Homo sapiens: one gene and its partners. The gene in region 1 interacts genetically with each later gene. Each region holds a gene or a part of one and is shown in the gene's direction. Other genes may lie near its edges.

Region 1 (3,657 bases):
TGAGATCCAAAATTTGATCATCCAGAGATGGTCAAGCTCTAAGGAGTTTACTCAAACTAGTCAAATTTACAAGATATTAATGTATAAAATTGAATTGCAAAATTGTTTCAAGAGGATCAGTTATTTCTCCCTTATCACCCCATATGTTTCCCCGGGGGCAAATCTAGCGTGGATGGCAAATTATAATAATCAGGAGGTTGCCCAGGGAGTATAATATGTAGAAAGTGCAAACATGGCTGGGTGATCTCAATGGACAGTGTTACTGAGCCAAGACAGATTGATGGGTGTATCCTCACCCTACAGAGACGAGCTTGGGTTACAGCACTCATTCCCTAAAGACTACAGGAGGCATACACCTGAACTTTGGTTCCTGGACCTGCTTTTATCATTGCCATTTAGACTATTCTGCTCAAGTTAACACATTCTTCATATAGAATGTACAAAAAATTAGAGATCATATTTCTTTGTATTATATAAAAGTTACCTTAATTAAGTTGAAGTCTTCCTGAAATACCTGGATTGCTTCATTTCCATAGGTGATTGATTATATTAATTATATTTTGATCCTATCTTCTTAGCTTAAATATGAGGGCATCTAACACACACCTCACAGGACAGGATTCAGAAACCACATCTTGGTGTTATTAGAAGAGGAGGGCAGCATATTTCCAGAGATGAATATAGATCTGTGTAGACTATGGGACTGCAGTAAGTTTTCAATAACTAATTCAGAGTAGAGGTTTTTTTTTTTTTTTTAACACTTTAAGTTCTAGGGTACATGTGCACAACGTGCAGGTTTGTTACATAGGTATACATGTGCCATGTTGGTGTGCTGCACCCATCAACTCGTCATTTACATTAGGCATTTCTCCTAATGCTATCCCTCCCCCTGCCCCTCACCCCATGACAGGCCCCGGTGTGTGATGTTCCCTGCCCTGTGTCCAACTGTTTTCATTACTCAGTTCCCACCTATGAGTGAGAACATGCGGTGTTTGGTTTTCTGTCCTTGTGATAGTTTGCTGAGAATGATGGTTTCCAGCTTCATCCATGTCCCTCATGTCCCTGCAAAGGACATGAACTCATCCTTTTTTTTTTTTTGAGACGGAGTCTCGCTCTGTCTCCCAGGCTGGAGTGTAGTGGCATGATCTCAGCTCACTGCAAGCTCCGCCTCCTGGGTTCACGCCATTCTCCTGCCTCAGCCTCCCGAGTAGCTGGGACTACAGGCACCCGCCACCACGCCCGGCTAATTTTTTGTATTTTTAGTAGAGACAGGGTTTCACCGTGTTAGCCAGGATGGTCTCGATCTCCTGACCTCGTGATCCGCCTGCTTCGGCCTCCCAAAGTGCTGGGATTACAGGCGTGAGCCACTGCGCCCGGCCACTCATTTTTTTTTTTTTTTTTTTTTTGAGACAGAGTCTCTGTCATCCAGGCTGGAGTGCAGTGGCACCATCTTGGCTCACTGCAATCTCCACCTCCTGGGTTCAAGCAATTCTTCTGCCTCAGCTTCCTGAGTAGCTGGGATTAAAGGTGTGCACCACCAAACCCAGCTAATTTTTGTATTTGTAGTAGAGAGGAAGTTTCCCCATGTTGGCCTGGCCGGTCTCGAACTCCTGATCTCAGGTGATCTGCCCACCTTGGCCTCCCAAAGTGCTGGGATTACAGGCAAGAGCCACCATGCCTGGCCGAAAGTAGGGCTGTTTTTACTGTTACCAGAAAGAATCTTTAAGGCTCATGTACTACATCCCAAATACTAGAAGACCAAGTCAAGGGCAGGGTCATAGTAGGGAACCTTGTAGCTGGTCATTCTGCTTATCTCTTACTAGTTCAACAGTGGTTCTGTTGATTTTTGTGACATTTTTACGTAAATAATTGGCCCTTCTAGAAATAATGATATATTTGTCAGTTCCTTTTTAATCTTTTTACCTTTTTTTCCCTGAAATTTGTCTTATGTAAATTTGATAAGTTTTAGTGCTACTTTTCTCATTTCTACCAAGTTTTTGTACTTGCAAAGCCAGTATATTTATTTATTTGAGACAGTCTCGCTCTGTCACCCAGGCTGGAGTGCAGTGGTGCGATCTTGGCTCACTGCACCATCAGTCTCCCAGGTTCAAATGATTCTCTTGCCTCAGCCTCCTAAGTAGCTGGGACTACAGGTGCACGCTACCACACCCGGCTAATTTTTGTATTTGTAGTAGAGATGGGTTTCACCATGTTGGCCAGGCTGGTCTTGAATTCCTGACCTCAAGTGATCCACCCACCTCGTCCTCTCAAAGTGCTGGGATTACAGGCATGAGCCACCACAACTGGCACCAGTATTTATTTTAAGAATTCTGTTTTTTAAATTAACACACACTAGAGTTAATTTTTTGGGGGGGGGGCATGTTCTGCATGTACAGCTCTATTCATGTTAACATATCTATAGATTTGTCTAACCACCACCACACTCAGGATGCAGAATCGCTGTCACACTGAAAAACTCCCTTATGCTATCCCTTTTGAGTCGTATCTTTCTGCTACCCCTAAACCCTGGCACCTACTGGTCTTTTCTGTCACTAAACTTTTGGTTTTTTGGAAATGTCATATAAATAGAGTTATACAGTAAGTATGTAGTCTTTCAGATTGGCCTCTTTAACTTGGCATATAGCATTTTTGATTCATCCAATTGGTTACATGTATCAGCAGTTCATTCCTCTTTATTGCTGAGTAGTAGTCCATTGTATCACAATTTGTTTATCTCCAATATTGCTTTTAAAACACAAAATTCAACTAATGCGACTGATTATGCAGAACTTCTAATTCTACCCTTATAGAATCTGCAAGAGGCAGTGATAGTGAAGATGAAGTTTTACGAATGAAACGCAAGAATGCGATTGCATCTGATTCAGAAGCGGATAGTGACACTGAGGTGCCAAAAGGTATCCCTATTATTATATATATATGTATATTTCCATACCTCTTTCTGTATTTAACTGTAGTGCATTTCTAACCCTGAGTGTGTTTACCCCAGATCGCCAGACCCACAGAATAAGAGTGTGGATACGCTCAGTGTACTCAGAGAAGTTATATAGCTATGAGAAGCTGCTCATGCTTAATTAGTTGAAGAAGAACCTGCCTCTTTGTAGTTTTTTTTTTTTTTTTTAAGAGACAGAGTCTTGCTCTGTCACCCACGCTGGAGTGCAGTGGTGCAAGCTCAGCTTATTGCAACTGCTGCCTCCTGGGTTCAAGCAATTCTCCTCCCTCAGCCTCCTGGTAGCTGGAATTACAGGAACGTACCACCATGCCTGGCTAAATTTTTTGTATTTTTAGTAGAGGTGGGGTTTCACTATGTTGGCCAGGTTGGTCTCGAACTCCTGATCTCAAGTGTTCCACCCACCTCAGCCTCCCGAAGTGCTGGGATTACAGGCGTGAATCACTGCGCCCAGTCTGTTTATAGTTAGAGTGAATTCATTATTAGGGGGCTGACCTTCTTATTGGGATGGAGGTTACAATGTCCATTCTTCACTTTGAATAATGACAGTCTCGGTGTTTTGTTCCTAAGTTCTTGACTTAGATGAAGAAACTGATTCTTTGAGCTGTGAGTTAGATGAAGAGCTCATAAAAACCCAGTGTTGGCTGGGTGCAGTGGCTCACGCCTGTAATCCCAGCACTTTGGGAGGC
Region 2 (3,657 bases), on another chromosome or scaffold:
AGGTTGGTCTTCAACTCCTGGGTTCAAGTGATCTGCCTGCGTCTGTCTCCCAAAGTGCTAGTTGCTAGGATTACAGGTGTGAGCCGCTGGGTCTGGCATAAGAGTTAAAGTTTGTTAATCTTATGCCTAATTGAAAAGTAGAAGACACCAATAGAACAATATTTAAGAACTTTTAATCTGGGTTTTGTTTTGTAGAGGTAAATGTGTTTCGATTGGAAATGGAGGGCATTACAGTTAAAGGAAAAGGTTGCCCCAAACCAATTAAATCCTGGGTCCAGTGTGGAATTTCCATGAAGATCTTAAATTCCCTCAAGAAGTAAGTGGTTGGTGGTTGTTTATGTTTTCCGTGTCTTGCTGCTCAAAATAGTCCTTCCACACCAGTGTCTCCCTGAGTTACATTTTTACTCTAAAAAAACCCTTACGTTTTAAAAAACTTTCATTGAGATAATTTATATATCAAAATTTACCCTTTAAATTATACAACTGGTTTTTTTTTGTTTTGTTTTGTTTTGTTTTTTGAGACAGAGTCTTGCTCTGTTGCCCAGGGTGGAGTGCAGTGGTGCAATCTCACTGCGCTCACTGTGACCTCGGCCTCCCGGGCTCAAGCAGTTCTCCTGCCTCAGCCTTCCGAGTAGCTGAAACTATAGGTGTGTGCCACCATAGCTGGTTATTTTTATTTTTAGTAGAGACAGGGTTTCACCATGTTGGTCAGGCTGGCGTTGAACTCCTGACCTCAGGTGATCCGCCCGCCTCAGCCTCCCAAAGTGCTGGGATGACAGGCGTGAGCCTCCATGCCCGGCCTTTTTTTTTTTTTTTTGAGACGGAGTTTCACTCTCGTTGCCCAGGCTGGAGTGCTGTGGCTCGATCTTGGCTCACTGCAACCTCCGCCTCTTGGGTTCAAGTGATACTTTTGCCTCAGCCTCCCAAGTAGGTGGGATTACAGGCATGTGCCACCATGCCTGGCTAATTTTGTATTTTTAGTAGAGACAGGGTTTCTCCATGTTGGTGAGGGTGGTCTCGAACTCTCTACCTCAGATGATCCACCCGCTGCGGCCTCTGAAAGTACTGGGATTACAGGCGTGAGCCACCAAGGCCGGCCTTTTTTTTTTTTTTTTTTAAGAGATGGGGTGTCGCTATGTTGACCAGGCTGGTCTCCAACTCCTGGCCCCAAATGATTCTCCCATCTCAGCCTCCCAGAATGCTGGGATTTCAGTCATGAACCACTGCGCCCTGCCTAATTTTTAAATTTTTCATTATCCCAAAAAGAAACTTTTGTCCATTAGTAGTCAGTCTTCTCCCCTCTCCCCACCCCTGGGCAACCATTAATCTATTTTTTGTCTCTAGAATAGATTTGGCTATTCCTAACATTTCATGTAAATGGGATCAAACAATATATAGTCTTTACTGCCTGATCTTTTTCACTTTACATAATGTTGTAAAGATTAGTCCATATTGTAGAATGTGTTAGTACTTCATTCCTTTTTATTGCCAAATAGTATTTTATTGTATGATATATACCACCTTTTGGAAGTTCATTTTTATGGGAACACATAGGACCTGTCTGGGGCCCAGCAATCTCAATTCTTACCTTTTCTTCCTTTGGTTTTCTTTTTAAGGCATGGCTATGAAAAGCCCACGCCCATCCAAACCCAAGCTATTCCTGCTATAATGTCTGGACGAGATTTGATTGGCATTGCCAAAACAGGAAGTGGAAAGACCATTGCTTTTCTGTTGCCCATGTTTAGACACATCATGGATCAGAGGTCATTAGAGGAAGGAGAGGGGCCAATAGGTACAATTCTTTTCATTAAACTATTTTTCAAATAACAGCTTTGTTGTCAAACAGAAAGACCTTATAGTTTATAATGTTCTTAATTATGACAATGAAGTTGTCTTTATGTACATTTTCTTTATCAATTTGGCACTTTGGGGCTGATTTCCCCTTACCAGCAGGTGGAGTGAGAATCTTCAGAGCTCTGGAGTGACATCTCAGAAGTACAAAAACAGCCTCTCCTGGCACAGCTCAGTTTTTAAACTCTGACTTGGCAGGTAGACTCCTCGTGCATCTATCTGTTTATTTATATTGAGGTTTGTTAGCCCAGTATCAGTGGATATATAAAAGCGACATGGAAGATATCCTAGGGAAACATATTTTCCTAGGTAGTTTTTGGCCTTAACAGGCTATAATGCCAGCATTTCATTCAAGATTACTTGTTTAGATTCTGGTTTCTTGATTCATCTTGGCAGAGATAACTCTTGGAAAGTTGAGTAGGGTTTTGGAAAGTTGTTCAGCTTCTCTCTTAGGAACACGGGGCATAGTATATCTCTCCTCTGTCTGTGCCCCTCAGACCAAGGTTGTTTCTGGAAGCAGCAGTATGGCTTCTGTGGCACAGTGAGTCACTTGATTTTCTTTGTTCTGTGATTTGCATTAGAAAACTGTTTGCATTCTTTTGAACCAAGTATTTTCCTGAGGGTTGGATGAGGCATTTAACTGTCATTTATCTTCTTTTAGCATGTTTTTAAAAATCTGCTTATATTTATCCTTCCCCACAACCTCTGCTGTTATACAACTTTTGAAATAGTTTTCAGGGATGCATAACAAAACAAAAATTAGGTGAAACAATCTGAACTTTATTGTAAAGGTTAAATTGAACACTATAAAGCACAGCCTTAAGAATTTTGGTGGTTAGGCTACTGATGTATTTATCTTTCCAGCTGTCATCATGACTCCAACTCGAGAACTGGCTTTACAGATTACTAAAGAGTGTAAGAAGTTTTCCAAGACTTTGGGACTTAGAGTGGTCTGTGTTTACGGAGGAACAGGAATCAGTGAGCAGGTAGTTATATAAGAAACATTCATGTTTTCCATTCTTTTCTCAAGTTGGATGATTCAATAAAGTAAAAGTGACTTTTACTTTTAGTTTTTTGAATAGTGATTGCTTCTAAAATCATTTAAAAAATGAAGTATAAAAATAATAGTAAGAATTAGTTATTTTATGTAGGATGAATACCTTTGGAGATGTAATGTACAGCATGGTGACTAGTTAATGTTATATTGTGTGCTGAAAATTCGCTAAGCCAGTAGATCTCACATCATGTTTTTTTTTTTTCTTTTTTGAGATGGAGTCTCGCTCTGTCACACAGGCTGGAGTACAGTGGCGCGATCTCGGCTCACTGCAACCTCTGCCTCCCTGGTTCAAGCGATTCTCCTACCTCAGCCTCCCAAGTTGCTGGGACTACAGGTGCCTGCCACCACGCCTGGCTAATTTTTGTATTTTTAGTAGAGACGGGGTTTCACCATATTGGCCAGATTGGTCTTGAACACCTGACCTCAGGTGATCCTCCTGCCTCGGCCTCCCAAAGTGTTGGGATTACAGGTGTGAGCCACCGTGCCTGACCAATCTTACATGTTCTTACCACAAAAGAAAATATTGGTAACTATATGAGGTGATATGTTAGCTTGATTGTGTTCATCATTTCAGAGTGTATATGTATATCAAACATGTTGTACACCTTAAATATATATAATTTTTGTTAATTATGACCCAATATAGTTGTGGCAAAAAAGAACATACTATGTTAATGCTAGATTAGAATTTTTGAATCTTTTTACATAGATTATCCCTCCTCCCTCTTCCCCTGCCTGAGAAAGCAGAT
Region 3 (3,250 bases), on another chromosome or scaffold:
AGACAAGCAAGTATATAATCACTGACCAAACTGTTACAGGAAGGTAGAATATGAGGTTTGGATTGTTATACCACAGTCATGTTCTAGTAGCCATAGAACAGCTAGGCAAGTGAACAACAACCCCCCTTGCTTCTTTGTAACGTCTTGAGAGCTGGAGATTCTATAGAGCAAGGGACAGAGGCAGGAGGATGCTAAGAATTAAGAACACCTGAGTTGATTCCCTGCTTCACTCTTTGATCTTTCTTTGGAAAGTTCTGGGATTGACTCATTTGTTGCTGCTTGTTCCACTGCCACTTGTTTCTGTTTCTTTGCTGCCTACCTTTCTGATGTAGAAACACTCTGCTGTCTTCAGGTTCTCTAAGACTTTTGCTTCTGACAATAACAAGGCAAAAGTAAAAAGTACCAAAAGAGGGATACGTTATGAAATAGGAAAGCCTTTACCTTAGTAATACTCTTGTTCCCTCTCCAAAGATTGTGTGTGTGGTTTTGGCGTAGTTGGTATAGTTGGGCTTTTCTTCAACAGCATGTACATGCTGTGCTTACTGTCAGTTTAAAGGCAGTTTGTAATATAAAGAGATACCTTAAGGGTCACATGTTAGAATGCTCACAGACTTCCTACAAATGGAGTATTAGGTGTTCTTCAGTGGCAAAAAGGATATCCAAGATGTCATACTTTTTCTTTATTACAAACGACTATCCTTCAAAACAGGCTAAAGTGTTATGTTTCTGAAAGCCAGATGTGGATTGGTTCAGTTATACCTATTAAGTGCTTAAAACTTAAATGTAAATTATGTATGTGCTTTTTTGTAAGGGAGTGTTTAGACATTTCTGATGATTAGTCTTCTACTTGTCTAACTTTCTTAATTTGGATTTCAGATTAACGTCTTCAAGGACCCAGTTGCTGATCCCAACAAAAGGTCCAAAAAGGGCCGATTATCTTTACATAGGACGCCAGCAGGGAATTTTGTTACACTGGAGGAAGGAAAAGGAGACCTTGAGGAATATGGTCAGGTATGTATCTATGCTGATTGGTTTTTTTAAGCAATAGTAGGTTGGCTCACCAAATTAATAAGAAAGGAGGTTTTTATGTTATTGTTTTTGTGGAAGACAAAGTATTATATTTTATTATAAAATGTCCAATTGCTGACCTGGCCTACCAAAATAAGATACAAAACAAGTGTCTACGTCATAAACACGGGGCCTGTGTATACATAGGGAGAAATATTACGTAAGTATAGTGATTGACAGCAAGTTTGTATACACTTTATCCAAAAGCAAACTATGTTACTTTAATATAAAATGTGAAAACAAGGTGACTTGATTTGGATTACATAATAAATGGTGAAACCTTGATTTAACCAAGTTTTCTGATTCAAATCAACCAAACTAGAAAAATTTACAGTACACTAAAGTAGTTCATATGATCTAATGGTCTTTAGCATACAAAAGTACATTTATATTTGTGAACTCAAGTTAAAAAATTTTTGGTTTTTAAGCCACTTGATCAAAAAAAACTTTAGACAGAACTATTCATGAATATTCATATTATTAGAAAAAAGTACACTAAACATGAGTGCACTATTACTTCCTATTTTGATTCTTTATACTACATCACAATTACTGCTTATAACATGTTACTTTTACATTTATTAAGGTTTTGAGCCAGAATTGAAATAACTTTGTTACCGTTAATGAAAAAATATGTTTGTAAATCAAACTTTTAGAATTAGATCCCTTTATATAGCCTGTTAGGCAATTATTTGAGTAAGCTTTGTGTAACTCTTGTACCTACTAAGATTTTGGCAGATTTAGTTTATCCTAGATGAGCTAAAGTCACTTCAAACTAAAAGTAAAAATCTAAGTGTGATTTTTAAAAGACACTGATTTAAGAGTATGTGAATGATAGTAGAATAAACTAGAAAATAATTCATAATCATCTAGGCAATTTGATTTAAGAGTAGGAACTAGTATTCCCTTAAATTTAAATTTGTGAAAGAAAATGCTACAGCTAAAGCACTGTGGTTTGAAGCAACACAATGACAGAAATATTAGATAATGTCATATGCACCTCAATCTTCAGACTAGGTGGAAAATTGAGATTACTTCTGTGGATTTTTCAGAGAGAAACCAGAAGCAGGTAACTCCTTAGTGAGACAGGAGTGGCTCTACCAGACCCAAAGGGAATTTAATTTCTTCAATCTGTCTTTGCTACTCTTGTATGGATGAAGTGGATTACCTTTGTCATTGACTTTTGGAGTATAAACAGAATCTTTAACCCAGTCACTGTGTGTTAGTCAAGAATGCAATACTTGTTTTTCTTTGTTTCTGTTTTGGGATTGGCTTTTGGCTTTTTGTGGGTTTTCTAGACCCAAATTTAGCACTAGCAAATTTCTTAAACTTCCATTTGATAAGTTTAATCACTGTTGAGTTTGTTGGCCAGGAACAAGGCAGGGTTTACCAGGCTTTTTTGCTGCACACTCACAATGATTACAGTTCTCCCTAGGCACCCAGGCATCTTCCTTCAGCCTGAGGAAAAAAAAGATTGGTCAGCTAGGTTTCTTGGTTTTCCTTTAAGAAAACTGGTTTAAGAATGTAGTATTAAGGTCATTCCTTTTCATAGAAGTTAAATATTTCTACATACCAGGCAACTCAGTGATTGGCCATTTTAGATAGTACCTTGTTCCACTAGCATTTTTTATGCATCAAATCATCTCACAATTTGAACACCATTGGCATCTCTGTATTTGACTGGTTGGTTAGTCTAATTCATCAAACCAGGATTCAGGTATTTTGCTTAATAATGTAATATAATCATGAAATTTCCATTTATGCAGGATCTTCTCCATACTGTCTTCAAGAATGGCAAGGTGACAAAAAGCTATTCATTTGATGAAATAAGAAAAAATGCACAGCTGAATATTGAACTGGAAGCAGCACATCATTAGGCTTTATGACTGGGTGTGTGTTGTGTGTATGTAATACATAATGTTTATTGTACAGATGTGTGGGGTTTGTGTTTTATGATACATTACAGCCAAATTATTTGTTGGTTTATGGACATACTGCCCTTTCATTTTTTTTCTTTTCCAGTGTTTAGGTGATCTCAAATTAGGAAATGCATTTAACCATGTAAAAGATGAGTGCTAAAGTAAGCTTTTTAGGGCCCTTTGCCAATAGGTAGTCATTCAATCTGGTATTGATCTTTTCACAAATAACAGAACTGAGAAACTTTTATATATAACTGATGATC

What was found.
Region 2: changes in LEO1 (region 1) and DDX46 together harm fitness more than expected from each alone (negative genetic interaction), as found in Homo sapiens cells (one large-scale study listed by BioGRID).
Region 3: changes in LEO1 (region 1) and NAMPT together harm fitness more than expected from each alone (negative genetic interaction), as found in Homo sapiens cells (one large-scale study listed by BioGRID).

The regions. Positions count from the first base shown.
Region 1 is NC_000015.10:51,961,647-51,965,303, reverse strand, and holds part of LEO1 (RNA polymerase-associated protein LEO1), read left to right. Parts: intron 1-2,810; coding exon 2,811-2,915; intron 2,916-3,657. UniProt on the Homo sapiens protein: Component of the PAF1 complex (PAF1C) which has multiple functions during transcription by RNA polymerase II and is implicated in regulation of development and maintenance of embryonic stem cell pluripotency.
Region 2 is NC_000005.10:134,782,750-134,786,406, forward strand, and holds part of DDX46 (probable ATP-dependent RNA helicase DDX46), read left to right. Parts: intron 1-195; coding exon 196-316; intron 317-1,616; coding exon 1,617-1,792; intron 1,793-2,715; coding exon 2,716-2,837; intron 2,838-3,657. UniProt on the Homo sapiens protein: Component of the 17S U2 SnRNP complex of the spliceosome, a large ribonucleoprotein complex that removes introns from transcribed pre-mRNAs.
Region 3 is NC_000007.14:106,250,778-106,254,027, reverse strand, and holds part of NAMPT (nicotinamide phosphoribosyltransferase precursor), read left to right. Parts: intron 1-876; coding exon 877-1,011; intron 1,012-2,834; coding exon 2,835-2,945; 3' UTR 2,946-3,250.